Linked DNA regions of Homo sapiens: region 2 is linked to region 1. The links come from fine-mapping of genetic effects on gene expression. A gene starts in region 1. The other region holds a variant in brackets. All regions are shown on one strand. Distances are from middle to middle.

Region 1 (9,893 bases):
GGAGTGCAGTGGCACAATCTCAGCTCACTGCAACCTCCGCCTCCCAGGTTCAAGTGGTTCTCCTGCCTCAGCCTCCCAAGTAGCTGGTACTACAGGTGCATGCCACCACACCCAGCTAATTTTTTGTATTTTAGTAGAGATGGGGGTTTCACCACGTTGGCCAGGATGATCTCGATCTCCTGACCTCGTGATCTGCCCGCTTCAGCCTCCCAAAATGCTGGGATTACAGGCATGAGCCACCGCGCCCGGCCCTAACACAAATTTCTTAAGACAGAATGAATATAACAAAACTTACTTCTAGGCCAAAATTCCTTGTTAAACTCTTGCCTAAACAGTCAAGACGCATAGGCTAAAAATCTCCCTTTTCTTTTTCTAGTCTAATACCAGAAGCTCTTCAGTAGTGCACATTGATCTTTGTAAACCAGAGAATACCAGTCCCAGAGTTGCAAAACCCAGTTCTAGTTCTAGTTCTTACTCTTAACTAGTTTCAGGTAAATTATTTAACCTTTAAAACAAACAAACAACAACAAAACAGAAAACTAAGAGATTGGACTTATCTAAGAATAGCATATATTTGGCACATGTCTACTACCTACTAGGTAACTGTCCACAGGAGACATCATTGATCAACCATAATACAATTTCTCAGAGCACCTACAACCAGAATCCTTCCAAACACAGTGCTTCTGGCAGCTTCCAATTAGAGCTGGCCAATAAACCAAAATATATTTGCCATTATGGACTAGATAATCTCTGTAACTTCTCCCAACTCTAAAACTCAATGAGCAAGTTTCTACAGGCTGAGAGAAAAACACTCCCAACAAGCCTAGATCAATACTTTTTAGAGGCATAAATTTCAGTCCAAACTCCAAGTTCTAAATTAGCCAGGCTTGGTGGCATGCACCTCTAATTCCAGCTACTTGGGAGGCAGCTACTTGGGAGGCTGAGGCACACGAATCGCTTGAACCCGGGAGGTGGAGGTTGCAGTGAGCCGAGATCACATCACTGCACTCCAGCCTGCATGGCCGAGCAAGACTCCATCTCAAAAATAGTAACAATAACAAACTTCAAGTTCTCTTCCAAATTACACCTGACATAGTTCTTTCTAATTTCTCAAAGATGCTAATGAACAATTCACTCTCATACTATACATAACATATATAACCTGGCAATATTATTCAGACTTGCTAATGGGTTCTTTTGACAGAAAAGGAGCCCTTTACCCAGATTAGCTCTAAAAAAAAATCCTCATCTAGAAATATGGCAACAATATTGCACTAGTAAAAAGCTAAATCCAATCCTTTGATCATCCCCACAACCTCTCTCCAAGGTCAGGCTTTGTCATTTCTCAACTAGACTTCTGCAATAGCTAGTCCCTCATCCTTTCGCTCATCACCAGAGCAATCTTTCTTTTTTTGTTTTTTGATACCTATCTTTGTCCTGCAGTACACAGCAATTTTCTAAAACACATATGTACTCACATCATTTCCCTGTCGAAAAATCTGCATCTATTTCTTTTTTTTTTCCTTCCTTTTGGTAAAGACGGGATATCACCATGTTGCCCAGGCTGGTCTCAAACTCCTGAGCTCAAGCGATTCACCCGCCTCAGCCTCCCAAACTGTTGAGATTACAGGTGTGAGGCACTGAGCCCAGCCCTGTATCTATTTCTACCAACATAAAATTCCAAATTTTTAGCATTATACTTAAAATTTTTAGCCAGAGCACAGTAGCTTACACCTGTAATCCCAACACTTTAGGAGGCCAAGGTGGGAGGACCACTTGAACACAGGAGTTAAGACCAGACTGGGCAACGTAAAGAGAACCTTTCTCTACAAAAAAATTTTAAAAATTAGCCAGGCATGCTAATGCATGCCTGTTGTCCCAGCTACTCAGGGAGGCTGGGGTGGGAAGATCACTTGAGCTCTGGAGGTCCTGTCACTGCACTCCATCCTGCGTGACTGGGTGAGACCCAGTCTCAACAACAAAAAATCACTTTTCATATACTTGCTTCCTTTAACCTTTCTGACCTTGCGTTTCAAAATGCTCTCCTTCCCCATTCCACTCCACACTCCCTGAACCCTTTTTGTTCCATAATCCTCTGAATTTACACACAGCATTAAGGCATTCACTCAGCCTACCCTGTCCTTCTCTTTCCCCGCCCTTTTCACACTCCTACTCTTCATGTAAGACCCAATGTGGGTTCAGGGGCAAATCTTGCCTCTTCTAACCAATCCTCCACCCAGCCACACACACAGAATTGGCCACTTCCTCTTTCGTCTCAAAGCTTTTTGACCTTTCCTTGGTAAGTCTACAGTACCATTTGCCCTCAGTGGTTCCCAAGACCATCAGAATTACCTAAGGCATGTGTTAAAAATAAATTGGTTGAAGCCAACCCAGACCTACTAAATCCATCTCAGAAGGTAAGACCCTGGAATTTCTAAGCTCTCCTAATTATTCTAATGGTCAAATTTGGGGACTACTGGTTTGTCTGCCTCTCCCAATAAGTGAAAAGATGTATTTTTTAGGGCCAGGAGTGGCGGCTCATGCCTGTAAACCCAGCACTTTGGGAGGCCAAGGCAGGTGGATCACGAGGTCAGGAGTTCGAGAGCAGCCTAGCCAATATGGTGAAAACCCATCTCTACTAAAAAATACAAAAAAATTACCGGGAGTGGTGGCACGCGCCTGTAGTCCCAGCTACTACGGAGGCTGAGGCAGAAGAATTGCTGGAACCCGGGAGGCGGAGGTTACAGTAAGCCGAGATCACACCACTGTACTCCAGCCTGGGTGACAAAGTTAGATTCCGTCTCAAACAAACGAAAAAGATGTATTTTTTTCTAAAGAATGTAGAAATGTTTGATTCTAGAATACACTGAAGAAGTAGTCTGTACTCATTTTTTTAATTTCATATGATATCCTTGGTGACTTGACCTGTATGCTGAATGTAATGGAATTCCTTTTGGACTCACAAAACTTAAATTCACAGTTCAAAGAAGCAGTAGAATTTCCACCTTCATTTCTAAATTTTTTTTTTTATTTTTTGAGACAGGGTCTCACTCTGTCACCCAGGCTGGAATGCAGTGGCAACGGTAACAGCTCACCGCAGCCTCGACCCCCCGGAATCAGGTGATTCCCCCACCTCAGCCTCCTGAGTATCTGGGACCACAGGCGCCTGCCACCACACCCGGCAAATCTTTGTATTTTTTGTAGAGACGGGGTTTCACGATGTTGCCCAGGCTGATCTCCAATTCCTGGGCTCACGTAATCCGCCCACCTCGGCCTCCCAAATTGCTGGGATTACAGGCGTGAGCCACCACACCCATCCCATTGCTTTTTTTTTTTTTTTTTTTTTGAGGCGGAGTCTCGCTCTGTCGCCCAGGCTGGAGTGCAGCAGCGAGATCTCGGCTCACTGCAGCCTCCACCTCCCGGGTTCAAGCCATTCTCCTGCCTCAGCCTCCCTAGTAGCTGGGACTACAGGCGCGCGCCACCACGCCCAGGATTTTTTTTTTTTTTTTTTTGTATTTTTAGTAGAGACGGGGTTTCACCATGTTGGTCAGGATGGTCTCGAACTCCTGACCTCATGATCTGCCCGCCTCGGCCTCCCAAAGTGCTAGGATTACAGGCGTGAGCCACACACAGCACCCGGCCCATTTCTTAATTTTAAAAATAAATCGTAGCTTAAATAAACCTGTAAATACACATAGCAAGCTCTCAGCAGATCTGCCATGAGAACTTCACCTCAACTGATAAACCATTCCTTAGCCGATTTTGAGAATGGAAATACACTGCCTTTACATACTTCCTGAAGATCGAATTCTATCAGGAAAAGATGCAGGAGAACCCACCTAAGTGGGTGGCTGGCTCCAGGGTCTTACTAATTTTCAAGGCAAAAATCCCACAATTCCCCATCCCCCACTCCAAACCAAGTATACTGTAGCTGTGGAAGAATGGCAGAAAATGTAATAAGATTAGGATACGAATACAACCAAGAAAACAAGGTTGCGTTGTTATTGGGGATAATGAATTCCTGGCCCTTTACAAGTTCACCTGGTTACATGTCCAACTAACTTTAGGCCCAGCGTCTACTTCGGGCGCACAAATTCTGCGATTCTCTTTTCTGTCGCGGACGGGAACTGTCTTGGAAAACTTGAGTTCTCCACTTAAAAGTCATGTCATCATGCTTCGACCCTTAGAATACGTTCAACGGCTACTTTTTTCTTTTCTCTGCTAAAGAAAAGGGCACTCTCCGGAGGAAGGGCAGTGACAGCTCCACGTCTGCAAAAGTCGGCGCCGCCACGACGGTGGCGGACGTCGGGGAGGGCGCCGGAGCCGGGACCACCACGCCGGGGGGACAATGGAAGGAGGAGGCGAGTGGGAGAGAGAAGGGGAGGCAGCCGCTGTGCTGGGCCCTTCTAGCGACTGGGGGCTCGGAAAAGTCTCGAGAAGGCCAGCTGGGTGGCGGGGGACCCGGCCGCCGCCCCTCACAGGGCCACGTCGCCCGCGCCGGCCCCGCCGCCGGGCCCCGCGCGTAGGCCGAACCGCTGGAGAGTGGCCCCAGGCGGGGCTGAGGGGCGAGGGGCCGGACGGTACCCACGCCCGTCGTGGCCCAGCCCTTTCACAACTTGGAGCCCGCGAGGCGAAGGCCTCCGGAAGCCTGTGCCAGACACTGATCCCTCCGAACGTCCAGACAGCCCACCCCCACCGCCCGGCCCGGGCCAGTAGCCCGAGCTCCCCGCGCCCCCGACAGACACCGGCTCTGGAAGAAGGAGCAGCCGCGGCTCTGGGGTCCCGAACCGCGCGTCCCACTCCTCTACCCTTGTTCTCCCCGAACATTCTCATCCGGACTCCCTCCCTCTCCCGAGAACTGCCCCGAGTTCGCCCACGGGGGTTTACCGGGACTCGGGGCGGCGGCGACTCCTCAGTCCCTAGACTAAGATGGCAGCCGGTCCCGAGCCCCGACCACAGCTACTAGAGCGAGTTAGCAGCTAAAGCGCAGGCGCCTGAGCGCGGAAGTGGTCTAGACTACAAGCCCCAGCAGGCCTTGCGCGCCAGCCGTCCGGCCCGCCCCTGGCTTGAAGAGCTGGCTGCGGTGGTAAATCAGTTAAATCCCAGTTTTCCTCAGCTCCAGGTGAGATGGGCGCGAGCGGCTCCCAGCACCTCCAGGCTTTTTTTTTTTTTTAACACCCCGCCCACCAGAGCCTATAAGGACTGTGATTCTCAAACTATGGTGTGCATCAGAATCACCTAGAGAGCTTATTAAAACTTACACTGCTGACCCCCACCCCCAGAGTTTCTGATCAGAAGATCTGGCATAGGAGGATAGGGTCTGATAATTTGCATGTCCAACAAGCTGTCTAGTGATACTGCTAGTGAGTGAAATCATAATTTGAGAACCAATGGGCTATATAGCTTAGTTTATAACTTAGTTGTTCTTTTTTCTTTTTCTTTTCCTTTTCTTTTTTTTTCTTCTTTTTGAGATAAGGTCTCACCCTTCACCCAGGCTGGAGTGCAGTGGTGCAGTCATAGCTCACTACAGCCTCACACTCCTGGGCTCAAGCGAGCCTCCCACCTGGGCTTCCTGAGTAGCTGGGACAGCAGTTGAGCACCACCACACCCGACTAATTTTGTTCTATTCTTTGTAGAGATGGGGATGGGGTGGAGTGCGGATGGGATGGGGCGGGAATAGGGCCACGGTGTCGCCATGTTGCCCAGGCTGGTCTCCAGCTCCTGGGCTCAAGCGATACTCCCTCCTCGGGCCTCCCAATCGCTGAGATTACAGATGTGAGCCACTGCACCTGGCCTGGCTTAGCCTTTAACAATGTACATTAAAGGGCGTGGTTAAAAAGAAAATAAAAGAAAAAAAATGTACACTTGAGAGTTACACTGACCGGATTCAAATCCTCCCTTTTCTACCTTTTAACTGGGTGCCCTTAGGGATGATGACAACAGCTTAGTGGAGCCAACGTGGCCTGTCCGGTATTCTAAGAGCTGATACCAAGCTCCCTTTATTCTCACAACAAACCTATTACAGAAATACCATTATTATCCCCATTTTACAAATATATAAACTAAGTCACATACTTGATAAGAACCCAGGCAGTCTGGCGTGAAAGTCCGTTGTCTTAACCTTCTTCATGGATTGCTTGTGAGAAATAATAGGCTATGCAGGCAGAGACTCAGAGGTATGACTAAGTGCTCAATACTTAGTGACCTTTGCTATTACTGTTTAGCCTGTTTCCTCCTAATGAAAATAGTATTTTGCCATCTGGAAAGTCACATTTTTCAAAGTGACTTTTTTTTTTTTTTTTTTTTTGAGACAGAGTCTTGCTCTGTCACCCAACCTGGAGTGCAGCGGTGCAATCATAGCTCACTGCAGCCAACCTCCTGGGCTCAAGTGATCCTCTCACCTCAGCTTCCTGAGTAGCTGGGACTCCAGGCTCAAGCCACCACACTATCCTAATTGTTTTTATTTTTGTAGAGACGTGGACTCCCTGTGTTGCCCAGGCTGTTCTCAGACTCCTAGGCTTGGCTAGGGTCAGTGGCTTACACCTGTAATCCCAGGAGTTAGGGAGGCCAAGGCAGGCAAATCACTTGAGGTCAGGAGTTTGAGACCAGTCTGGCCAACATGGTGAAACCCCGTCTCTTTTTTTTTTTTTTTTTTTTTTTGAGACAGAGTATTGCTCTGTCGCCCAGGCTGGAGTGCAGTGGCGCAATCTTGGCTCACTGCAACCTCCGCTCGCCTCCTGGGTTCAAGTGATTCTCCTGTCTCAGCCTCCTAAGTAGCTGGGACTACAAGCGCATGCCATCACGCCTGGCTAATTTTTGTATTTTTAGTAGAGTTGGGTGAGCCACCACGCCTAGCCTTGTGAAACCCCTTCCCTACTAAAAACACAAAAATTAGCCAGGTGTGGTGGCGGGTGCCTGTAATCCCAGCTACTTGGGAGGCTGAAGCACGATAATTGATTGAACCCAGGAGGGGGAGGTTGCAGTGACCCAAGATCACGCCATTGCACTCCAGCCTGGGCGACTCAGCGAGACTCTGTCTCAAAAAACAAACAACAAAAGAAACATAAAGGCTGGGCGCAGTAGCTCACTCCTATAATCCCAGCACTTCGGGAGGCTGAGGCGGGTGGATCACCTGAGGTCAGGAGTTTGAGACCAGCCTGGCCAACATGGTGAAATCTTGTCTCTACTAAAAATGCAAAAATTTGTTGGGCATGGTTTGGGAGGCCGAGGCGGATGGATCAACTGAGGTCAGGAGTTCAAGACCAGCCTGGCTAACATGGTGAAACCCCATCTCTACTAAAAATGCAAAAATTAGACCGGGCACGGTGGCTCACGCCTATAATCCCAGCACTTTGGGAGGCCAAGGCGGGCGGATCACGAGATCAGGAGTTCAAGACCAGCCTGGCTATCATGGTGAAACCCTATCTCTACTAAAAATACAAAAATTAGCCGGGCGTGGTGGCGGGTGCCTGTAATCCCAGCTAGTCAGGAGGCTGAGGCAGAGAATTGCTTGGACCTGGGAGGCGGAGGTTGCAGTGAGCCAAGATCGTGCTACTGCACTCCATCCTGGGCCACAGAGCGAGAATCTGTCTCAAAAAAAAAAATGCAAAAATTAGTTGGGCATGGCACACCCCTGTAATCTCAGCTACTCGGGAGGCTGGGGTGGGAGAATTGCTTGAACTCAGGAGACGGAGACTGCAGTGAGCCAAGATCACGCCACTGCACTCCATCCTGAGTGACAGAGTGAAACCCCATCTAAAAAAAATAAAAAATCAAACTCCTAGGTTCAAGCCTTCAAGCCTCAAGCAAAGTACTTTCAAAACCACTTCATGTTTCCTGCAACATGCCTTAGGAAAGATTGCTAAAATACAGATTCCTGCGCCCCATCCTCATTCAGTTTCTCTAGTGCAGTGGTTTTCAAACCTCAGTACTTATCAGAATTGCCTGCAAAGTTAGTTAAACTGTAGGTTGCTGAGGCCACTCCTAGAGTTTCTGATTCAGTAGGTCTGGGGCAGGGCCTGAGAATTTGCTTTTTTTTTTTTTGGAGACTGAGTCTCACTCTGTCGCCCAGGCTTGAGTGCAGTGGCCCAACCTCCGCTCACTGCAACCTCTGCCTCCCGGGTTCAAGCGATTCTCCCGCCTCAGCCTCCCGAGCAGCTGGGATTACAGGTGCATGCCACCACGACTGACTAATTTTTGTATTTTTGTAGAGATGGGGTTTCACCATATTGGCCAGGCTGGTCTTGAACTCTTGAGCTTGTGATCTGCCCGCCTTAGCCTCCCAAAGTGCTGGGATTATAGGCGTGAGCCACCGCACCCGGCCAGTACAAGGTATTTTTATGACCATTATACAGAGAAGAAAACTGAGTGTGACAGAAATTAAATGGCTTGTTGAAGATCACTCAGCCAGGAACCAGGGATCTAACCCTAAGTCCTGTAGCTCCAGATTCTGTATTCACCTACAATTTTAAAAACTATGTAAGGTTAGGCAAAACTAGTCTATGGTGTTAGAAGTCAGGATACTGGTTACTCTTTGAGGGGAGGGTGTACCTGGAAGAAGGCACAAAGACACCTCTCAGGATAGGTAATAATGTTCTGTGCCCTGATCTGGGTGGTGTTACTGTTTCAGGAAAAGGGTCCTGATTCAGACCCCAAGAGAGGGTTCTTGGATCTCGTGCAGGAAAGAATTTGGGGCAAGTCCATACAATAAAGTGAAAACAAGTTATTTATTTATTATTCTTTTTCAGACAGAGTTTTGCTCTTGTCACCCTGGCTGGAGTGCAGTGGGGCAATCTCAGCTCACTGTAACCTCCGCCTCCTGGGTTCAAGTGATTCTCCTGCCTCATCCTCCTGAGTAACTGGGATTACAGGCGCACACCACCACACCCAGCTAATTTTTGTATTTTTAGCAGAGGTGGAGTTTCACCATGTTGGCTAGGCTGATCTTGAACTCCTGACCTCAGGTGATCCACCTGCCTCGGCCTCCCAAAGTGCTGGGATTACAGGCATGAGCCACGGCACCCAGCCGATAATGAGTTTATTAAGAAAGTAAAGGGGCCGGGCGTGGTGGCTAACGCTTGTAATCCCAGCACTTTGGGAGGCTGAGGGGGGTGGATCACGAGGTCAGGAGTTCAAGACCAGCCTGGCCAACATAGTGAAACCCCACCTCTACTAAAAATACAAAAATTAGCTGGGCGTGGTGACGTGCGCCTATAATACCAGCTACTCCAGAGGCTGAGGCAGGAGAATTGCTTGAACCAGGACCCAGGAGGCAAGGTGGAGGCTGCAGTGAGCCGACATCGTACCACTGCACTCCAGCCTGGGCAACAGAGCAAGACTCCATCTCAAAAAAAAAGAAAAAGAAAAAAGAAAGTAAAGGAGGCCGAGCGTGGTGGCTCACACCTGTAATCACACCACTTTGGGAGGCTGAGGCGGGTGGATCACTGGAAGTCAGGTGTTTGAGACCATCCTGGCCAACATGGTGAAACCCCATCTCTACTAAAAATACAAAAAAAGTTAGGCAGGCATGGTGACGCACGTCTGTAATCCCAGCTACTCAGGAGGCTGATGCAGGAGTATCGCTTGAACCCAGGAGGTAGAGGTTGCAGTGAGCGGAGATCCTGCCACTGCATTCCTGCCTGGGAGACAGAGCAAGACTCCCTCTAAAAAAAAAAAAAGAAAGTAAAGGAATAAAAGAATGGCTACCCCATAGTCAGAGCAATGGCTCGAGATGCTGGTCTAAGGATAGAGTTATTTCTTGATTATATGCTAAACAAGGGGTGGATTATTTATGAGTTTTCCAGGAAAGGGGTGGCCAATTCCCAGAGCTGAGGGTTACTCCCCTTTTTAGACCTTATAGGGTAACTTCTGGATGTTGCCGTGGCATCTGT
Region 2 (9,893 bases), 26 kb after region 1:
AGTGAGCCAAGATTGTACCACTGCACTCCAGCCTGGGTGACAGAGGGAGACTCCGTCTCAAAAATAAAATAAAATAAAATGAATAAATAAATTAAATAAAATAAATGAAGTGAGTCAATTTAAAGAAAAATATGAGGCCAGGCCTGGTGACTTACACCTGTAATCACAGCACTTTGGGAGGCTAAGGGGGGCAGATCACCTGAGGTCAGGAGTTGGAGACCAGCCTGGCCAACATGATGAAACCCCATCTCTACTAAAAATACAAAAAAAAAATTAGCCGGGCGTGGTGGTGCACGCCTGTAATCCCAGGTACACGGCAGGCTAAGGCAGGAGTATCACTTGAACCCAGGAGGCGGAGGTTGCAGTGGGCCGAGATCGTGCCATTCATTGCACTCCAGCCTGGGCAAGAAGAGCGATACTCCATCTCAAAAAAAGAAAAAAAAAGAAAGAAAAAAAAACAAGAACAACTATTGCTACTTGCAAAAACAGGAGAATTACAGAAACATAATGATAGTGAAAGAAGCCAGACCAAAAAAATGCATACCATAAAAAATATACTTTACTATTTTATTTATTTATTTATTTTGAAACAGGATCTCTCTTTGTCACCCAAGCTGGAGTGCAGTGTGTGATCATAGCTCACTGCACCCTTGCACTCTTGGCTTTAAGTGATCCTCCCACATCAGCCCACCCCAAGTAGCTGGGACTACAGGCGTGAGCCACCACATCTGGCTAATTTTTTAAAAAGTTTTTGTAGAGACAAGGTCTTGCTGTGTTGCCCAGGCTGGTGTTGAACTCCTGAGCTCAAGTGATCCTTCCGCCTTGTACTAAAATATACCCTACGTTGCTGGGATCACAGGCATGAGCCACTGTGCCAGGCCTACTTTGTTTAAATGTTTTAAGAACAGGCAAAACAGGCCAGGTGCGGTGGCTCACACCTGTAATCCCAACACTTTGGGAGGCAGAGGTGGGCGGATCACCTGAGGTCAGGAGTTCAAGACCAGCCTGACCAACATGGCAAAACGTCATCTCTACTAAGAATACAAAATTAGCTGGGCGTAGTGGCACAAGCCTGTAATCCCAGCTACTTGGGAGGATGAAGCAGGAGAATCACCGAATCACTTGAACCCAGGAGGCAGAGGTTGCAGCGAGGCGAGATTGTACATTGCACTCCAACCTGGGTGACAGAGTGAGACTCCATCTCAAAAAAAAAAAAAAAAAGAACAAAAGAACAGGCAAAACAAACCTAGGGTGACAGAGGTAAGAATACTGGTAACTCTCAAGTGTCAGGAATTGGCTGGGAGAGATCACAAGAGAGGCTTCTAGGGGATGGGAAATGTTTCTTTGTTTGTTTGCTTTTTGAGATGGAGTTTTGCTCTTGTTGCCCAGGCTGGAGTGCAATGGCGCGATCTCAGCTCACTGCAACCTCCGCCTCCCGGATTCAAGCAATTCTCCTGCCTCAGCCTTCTGAGTAGCTGGGATTACAGGCATGTACCAACACGCCTGGCTAATTTTTTGTATTTTTAAAAGAGACAGGATTTCACTGGGTTAGCCAGGATAGTCTCAATCTCCCGACCTCAGGTGATCTGCCCGCCTCGGCCTCCCAAAGTGTTGGCGTTACAGGAGTGAGCCACTGCACCTGGCGGGAAATGTTTATATGTTGATTTGGTTACACAAAAATCTATACACACACATAAATTATTTGAATTGTACACTTAATATTTGCTCAGTTTATTATATGTATATTATATTTCAACAGAAAATTAAAAATAATGTGCAACAGGGAATGATGAGCATAAGGTTCAGGAGGATGGTTACTAGGGTTGGGAAAGAGGTTGGGTGGGGAGGGAGGTATATAGTCAGATGTAGGTTATTGTTAAGGTTCTACATTTTATTTTGGGATGGTGGCTTCACAAGTGACTGTCATTACTTTAAAAAACTAATTAAATAAAAAATTATTTCAAAATAATACAAATGGTACACATACTGATAGAGTTGTTATGCAGTGTGTCAATCAAGATTCTTAGTTGCAAACAAAACAAACCAACTCACTTCAGTTTAAACAGGAAAGAGTTATTACAGGATGTTGGGTGGCTCACAGAATCTCCATGAGGGGCAAAGCCATAGTATTGGGAGCTATGCATAGGTAGGAACAACTCCTAAAATCACCCTGGGGAGTCAGGCCAGAGGAGATGCCAGGATGCAAGGCAGAGACACTACAGCTTGTTCTGCCAACCCTGAGTTCTTTCTTCCTTTTTTTTTTTTCTTTGAAACGGAGTCTCGCTCTGTAGCCCAGGGTGGAGTGCAGTGGTGTGGATCACTCAAGCCCAGGAGGTCGAGGTTGCAGTGAGCCATGATCACGCTACTGCACTCCAGCCTAGGTGACAGAGTAAGACCACTTCTCAAAAATAAATAAATAGGCCGGGCGCGGTGGCTCACGCCTGTAATCCCAGCACTTTGGGAGGCTGAGGTGGGCAGATCATGAGGTCAGGAGATCGAGACCAGCCTGGCTAACACGGTGAAACCCCGTCTCTACTAAAAATTAGCCGGGCGTGGTGGCGGGCGCCTGTAGTCTCAGCTACTCTGGAGGCTGAGGCAGGAGAATGGCGCGAACTCTGGAGGCGGAGGTTGCAGTGAGCCGAGATCGCGCCATTGCACTCCAGCCTGGGCGACAGAGTGAGATTCTATCTCAAAAAGTAATAATAATAAATAATAAATAAATAAATAGGAATAAAAATAATTTATCTTAAGCTGGCCTTGGTCATAAGAAGGAGGCATTCAGTCAGGCACATATGCTAGTTACTGCTGAACCCCTGATGAAAGAGATAAAATCTGGTTAAAGTTCCCTGATTAAGCCAGGTGCTGTGGCTCACGCCTGTAATCCCAGCACTTTGGGAGGCCAAGGCGGGCGGATCACCTGAAGTCGGGAGTTCGAGACTAGTCTGACCAACATGGAGAAACCCCATCTCTACTAAAAATACAAAATTAGCCGGGCATGGTGGCACATGCCTGTAATCCCAGCTACTCCGGAGGCTGAGGCAGGAGAATTGCTTGAACCTGGGAGGCGGAGGCTGCGGTGAGCTAAGATCCCACCATTGCACTCCAGCCTGGGCAACAAGAGCAAAACTCTGTCTCAAAAAAAAAAAAAAAAAAAGTTCCCTGATTAAAAAACAAAGCTGCCAGGAGTGGTGGCTCATGCCTGTAATCCCAGCACTTTGGGAGGTCAAGGCGGGTGGATCACCTGAGATCAGAAGTTCGAGACCAGCCTGGCCAACGTGGCAAAACCCCGTCTCTACAAAAAATACAAAAATTAGCAGGATGCGGTGGCGCAAGCCTGTATTCCCAGCTACTCAGTATGCTGAGGCACGAGAATCGCTTGAACCTGGGAGGTGGAGGTTACAGTGAGCTGTGATCGTGCCACTGCACTACATACAGCCTGGGTGATAGAGGGAGACTTTGTCTCAAAAAAAAAAACCAAAACAAACAAACAAACAAAAAAAACAGAGGCCTGGCCTGGTGGTTCATGCCTGTAATCTCAGCAGTTTGGGAGGCTGAGGTGGGTGGATCACTTGAGGTCAGGAGTTCAAGACCAGCTTGGCCAAAATGGTAAAACCCTGTCTCTACTAAAAATACAAAAATTAGCCAGGCATGGTGGCGGGCGCCTGTAATCCCAGCTACTCAGGAGGCTGAGGCAGAAGAATTGCTTGAACCCGGGAGGTGGCGGTTGCAGTGAGCCAAGATCACACCACTGCACTTCAGCCTGTGCAACAGAGCGAGTCTCCATCTTGAAAACAAAAACAAAAACCACCAAAGTTGGTGTCAAGCCCAGCACAGGGCAGAGCCTGCATGTGAGAGCTAAGTGGCTTC[C/T]GCTGTGGGGAGAAGCTTCCTGGGGCAGGGCAGGGCGTTGAGCAGCACCTGAGAGTCCGGAGGCATTGACAATTTATTATTTCCATCCAATAAAGCATTCATACCTTGCTGTCTTGCTTCATTTTCTTCCCCCAACAACCCGGAAGCAAATATTCGCTATTTCTGCTTGGCAGACGAGGAGATGAGGCTCAAGGGGTTGAGTAACTTGACAAAGGACAAATCGGTAGCAGAGCTAAAATTTTTGTTTAGGTCTTTTTTTTTGAGATAGGGTCTCACTCTGTTACCCATGCTAGGGAACAGCGGCGCCATCACAGCTCACTGCAATCTCCACCTCCCGGGGTCACGTGATCCTCTAACCTCAGCCTCCTGAGTAACTGGGACTACAGGCTAGTGTATCACAGGACCAGCTAATTTTTGGTAGAGACGGGGTTTCCCCATGTTGGCCAGGCTGGTCTTGAACTCCTGACCTCAAGTGATCTGCCTGCCTCATCCTCCCCAAAGCACTGGGATTACAGGTGTGAGCCACTGTGCCCAACCCAGCAGAGCTAAAATTTAAACCTGCTTCTCAGAGATAAATTAAGGAGCAAAGGAAGCCTTTGTTGGATAGCTTCCAGAGGTTGGGAATGTCCCTGGAAAGTGCTGAGATGGAGTCAATTCTGTTGACTGGGGACTCCTAGTAGATAAGCAAGAAATTAGTTGATAAGTTCTAGTGGTGGGGATGATGAAGACTGAGCACCCGAAGGGGAATGCTTGCAGAGTGATAAATAGTCCCTACACTGCCTTCTAGGGAGATCAAGTTTCCCCATGGGGCTTCTGTCTTAGGAGGTTCTATGAAAATGTAGTCAGAGCTGAATTGCCAGGAAAATGAAGAGACTGGGGGTTGCTACTTCATCTTTCCTTTTGGCCCTTCCTCATATAGCTCTCAACCTCTCCTCTTGATTAGTGGAGACCATATAATAATACAGCAATATTGGTTCCTATCTGCTGTGCATTTGCTATGAGCCAGACTCTTCTTATTTTTATTTATTGGTTTATTTATTTTTTGAGACAGGGTCTTGTTCTGTGGCCTAGGCTGGAGTGCAGTGGTACAATCACAGCTCACTGTAGCCTCAACTTCCCAGGCTCAAGCGATCCTCCCACCTCAGCCTCCCGAGTAGCTGGGACTATAGGCGCACATCACCATGCCCAGCTAATTTTTGTATTTTTTGTAGAGACGGGGTTTCACTGTGTTGCCCAGGCTGGTCTCAAACTCCTGGGCTGAAGCGATCCACCTACCTTGGGCTACCAAAGTGTTGGGATTACAGGCGTGAGCCACTGCACCCAGCTTAGCCAGATTCTTTTCATGTATCATATGGAATCCTCATGATTATATAAAGCAAGTCCTCCCATCATCCTCATTTTAAGGAAAAGGAGGCAAAGTGTGATTGTATTCATTGTCTGTGGCTGTGTCAGGAATTACCCCAAAACTACAAAGCTTAAAACAGCAATAAACATTTATTACCTCAGGTATTTTCTATAGGCAAGGAATTCAGGAGCTGATTAGTTGAGTGATTCTCACCAGAAACATCTCATAAGTTTCAAGATGTTGACCAGGGCTGCAGTCATCTGGAAGCTGGACTGGGGTTGGAGGATACAGTTTCAAGCGGGCCCGTGCACACGGCTGGCAAAGCAGTTGGCTGTTGGCAAGCAGTCTCAGTTACTTCTTGCTGTGTGTGTCCCTGCATTGGGCTGTGCTTATAACATAGCATATAACATTGAGTGTGCTTATAACATAGCAGCTAAGTTCCCTTAGGGCAAGTGATCCAAGAGAGCAAGATGGAAGCTGCAGTCTCTTTGTTTTTTTGTTTGGTTTTGTTTTTGAGACGGAGTCTCGCTCTGTTGCCCAGGCTGGAGTGCAATGGTGCGATCTTGGCTCACTACAATCTCTGCCTCCCAAGTTCAAGCAATTCTCCTGCCTCAGCCTCCTGAGTAGCTGGGGTTACAGGCACGTGCCACCACCCCCGGTTAATTTTTGTATTTTTAATAGAGACGGGGTTTCACCATGTTGGTCAGGGTGGTCTCGAACTCCTGACCTCGTGATCTGCCTGCCTTGGCCTCCCAAAGTGCTGGGATTGCAGGCATGAGCCACTGCGCCTGGCTGTTTTTATTTTTTGAGACAGGTTCTTGCTCTATTGCCCAGGCTGGAATGCAGTGGTGTCATCTCAGCTCACTGCAACCTTGACTTCCTGGGCTCAGGCGATTCTCTCACCTCAGCCTCCCAAGTAGGTTGAGACCACAGGTGCTAATTTTCTTTTCTCTTTTTAGTAGAGGTGAGGTCTCGTTTTATGGCTATGTTGCCTGGGCTGATCTCAATCTCCTGGACTCCAGTGATCCTCCCACCTTAGCCTCCCAAAGTGCTAGGATTACAGGCATGAGACACTGTGCCCAGCCTTGCATTGTCTTTTCTGACCTGGCCTCAGAAGTCACACCTGTTTCTGCAGTAGCCTGGTGGTTATGTAGGAAGAGAGAATCATTGAGGGCCATCTTGGAGGCCACTACCACGATGATAAGTAATTTGCCCAAGGTCACATACATGGGAAGCGTTAGAGGTGAGCTTTGAAGCCAGGAAGTTACTATGTCACAGTAAATATTAGTTTGAAGGAGTAGGGGCAGGCATGTACCCACAGGTCTCCTCTATCCTGGAGGCATTCATGCTTGAGATCCTGAGCTTCTCATTCCAATGGGCAGGTGAGTCAGACACTATCTGATGTGTCAGACAGACATTTTGTACAAGCAACATAATTTGACATTTTCTTTCTTTTTTTTTTTTGAGTAGGAGTCTCTCTCTGTCACGCAGGCTGGAGCGCAGTGGCGTGATCTTAGCTCACTGCAACCTCTGCCTCCCAGGTTCAAGCGATTCTCCTGCCTCAGCCTCCCGAGTAGCTGGGATTATAGGCATGTACCACCACGCTGGCTAATTTTTGTATTTTTAGTAGAGACAGGGTTTCACTATGTTGGCCAGCCTGGTCTCAAACTCCTGACCTCAAATGATCCACCCACCTTGGCCTCCCAAAGTGCTGGGATTATAGGCGTGAGCCACTGCGCCCAGCCAATTTGGGCATTTTTAAAAGACAGAAACAAACAAACAACAAAAAACAGCAAAAGATCGCACAGACTTGCACTTAATGGTAGACATGCTGAATTAAAGGGAACCTGACTGTGGCTCCAGCTTTGCCACTGACTTACTGAAGGACCTTAGGCAAGCTCCAGCCCCCTTTGGGGCCTTTGTTTTCCCATCTGTACAATGGAGCAGTTTGATTCCATGGACACTGAGGTCCTCTGGCTGGGTGATTCTGGGATTCTACGTAGAGAGCTGTTCACGGAGAAAGCCCAGGGAGTTCTTTCTCCACTTTCCCTGGCTTCATCTGTCCTTTGCTGAAGGGGAGCGGACCCCTCAGGTGCAAGGGGCACTCTTCTGGACCCAGGCCAGACCCAGCCAGGCTGTTCAGCCTTGTTTCACCCGAAGCTGGCTGGCACCATTGTTCCCCCATAAAGCTGGGCCCCTTTCCAGCTGCTACTGAACTCAGGGCAGGGGAGAGGCTCAAAGGACTCAGTTGTGTGGATTTCCTCCCTCCCCCAGGGCAGGCCTGGGTCACCCAACAGGCTGATTCAGCCCTTACAGAGGAACAAAAGAGATGAGATATGGTTTAGGGACAGAATTTGACATTTACCATTTTCCCTCATAAAACTTAAAAGTAATCATCTTGGGGAAATCCCCTTATGTTTATTTATTTTACAGTTCAGGGACATTTTAAAAAATTGGGGCAAGGGCATTGTTTCCAATTTCAGTGCTTAGGGACTCATATTTTAATGATTCTATGATGCACATTTGTTTACCTTTTAATATCTTTGAAATTGGAATGCATGTAACAGTTAATGACATAATAAGCTAATTGCAGCATTTAAAAAGTACATAGGCCGGGGGTGGTGGCTCATGCCTGTGCCACCAGCACTTTGGGAGGCCGAGGTGGGCAGATCACGAGGTCAGGAGTTTGAGACCTGCCTGGCCAACATGGTGAAACCCCGTCTCTACTAAAAATACAAAAATTAGCTGGGCATGGTAGCGCATGCCTGTAGTCCCAGCTACTCTACTCGGGAGGCTGAGGCAGGAGAATCACTTGAGCTCGGGAGGCAGAGGTTGCAGTGAGCCGAGATCGCGCCACCACTGCACTCCAGCCTGGCAACAGAGCAAGACTCTGTCTCAAAAAAAAAGAACATAAAATAGTGGTGTATATTACAATGATGGATCTTAAATTTGATGAACTAGGATAATTAGCTTCTGTTCTTGGATTCTAGGCCTACTGGATCTTGGACCCCCCTCAACCCCACAACCCAGTCTTTTCCACCACCCACAGGCTTGTCTTTATCCTAGCGTCATTGTCTTAACCCTCTGTCTCCAATATAATCCTTTGCACTTTTTTTTTTAACTCAAAAATCTTTTTACAGAAACTCTTAGAAGGGAGGAGAGGCCCACCCAGGAGCTGGGGGCACTGCTCAGCCACAGCCACGTTCCGTGTGGGCTGGGTATGGTGGCTGCTTCCCTGCAGAGGGCATGATTTCCTTATTACTTTTGACCTTTACACTTTTTTTTTAACAGCTTTTCCTCCGCATAAGACCCTGAAGGAATGGTGAGGGGAGACTCTCCCCAACTTCTGATCAAGACAGAGATTATTATTATTATTATTATTTTTGAGATAGAGTTTCACTCTTTTTGCCCAGGCTGGAGTGCAATGGTGCGATCTCGGCTCACTGAAACCTCTGCCTCCTGGGTTCAAGCGATTCTCCTGCCTCAGCCTCCTGAGTAGCTAGGATTACAGGCATGTGCCACCACCTCGGCTAATTTTGTATTGTTAGTAGAGACGGGGTTTCTCCATGTTGGTCAGGCTGGTCTTGAACTCCTGACCTCAGGTGATCCACCCACCTCGGCCTCCCAAAGTGCTGGGATTACAGGTGTGAGCCACCATGCCCAGCAAGACAGAGATTATTTAGTACCATTAGTACCATGAAAAGTCACAGAAGAATGAAAACAAATTTAATTCCAACATTGTAGCAGGCACTACTATTCATGTTTTATCATGTTTTATGTATGTTAACTCACTTAATCCTTACAACCATTTATCAAGTAACTACGAATGTGTCCCTATTTTACAGATGGGGAGCCTGAGGCACAGAAGTGCTACAGTCTGCTCAAGATCACATAGGTAGTTAGTGACCAGAGTCCAGGGGAAAAAAAGCAACATTTCTCTTTTGGCTTTTCTGCCAATTCTATTTTTTTTTTTTTTTTTTTAGACTGGGTCTTGCTCTGTCACCCATGCTGGAGTACAGTAGCACAATCTCAGCTCACTGAAGCCTCAACTTAACCAGGGCTCAAGCAATCCTCCCATCTCAGCCTCCCAAGCCTCCCAAGTAGCTGGGACTACAGGTGTGTGCCACACCTGGCTAATTTTGTTTATTTTTTTTGCAGAGACGAGGTTTCACTATGTTGCCCAGGGGGGTCTCAAACTCCTGGGTTCAAGCAATCCTCCTGCCTCAGTCTCCCAGAGTGCTAGGATTACAGGTGTGAACCACCACACTCAGCCCCTTTCTGCCAATCCTTGCCCCAGAGATAACAGGTCATAAATGTGGTTTATATCCTTCTGATGCAGGATATTTCTCAGCCTTTTCTTTTTTTGGACTCACGGCAGGGGCGCCCTGTCTACTTGGCCTGCCGCACTCACCCCCTTACAGGAGGGAGCACGTGAGTGAGTGCGGGATCTGGCCAGCCACTCCAAGCACTGACACAGGAGCAAGCTCCATGCGGGCCCGTGGACACACCAGGTGTATTGCCTCAAGGGGGACATGGCGGCATCCAGGCAAGGATGCCTGCGACCCTGAAGCCCCAGAGAGGGTATTAGTGTGCTAATTAGCTCTTTTAGTTCCACTGTCCACAGCCCCCTGGATGGTCGGTGTGTTAGCAGCTCAGTCGGCCCCTGGCCCTGTCACGTGGG

The links.
Region 2: its variant is fine-mapped to the expression of ITCH in whole blood (INTERVAL, PIP above 0.99). The same link has a PIP of 0.9 or more in blood mononuclear cells.

Annotation. Positions count from the first base shown.
Region 1 is chr20:34,358,347-34,368,239 of GRCh38, reverse strand. It overlaps ITCH (itchy E3 ubiquitin protein ligase), which reads right to left and starts at 4,967. Exons shown (of 25, transcript NM_031483.7): 1 at 4,891-4,967. RefSeq lists a silencer at 4,433-4,662.
Region 2 is chr20:34,332,505-34,342,397 of GRCh38, reverse strand. No RefSeq gene overlaps it. Among named protein-coding and RNA genes, the nearest start is that of ITCH, 26 kb to the left of the region's middle. RefSeq lists enhancers at 3,929-3,978, 4,029-4,138. The variant C/T (reference allele first, on the strand shown) is at 3,868.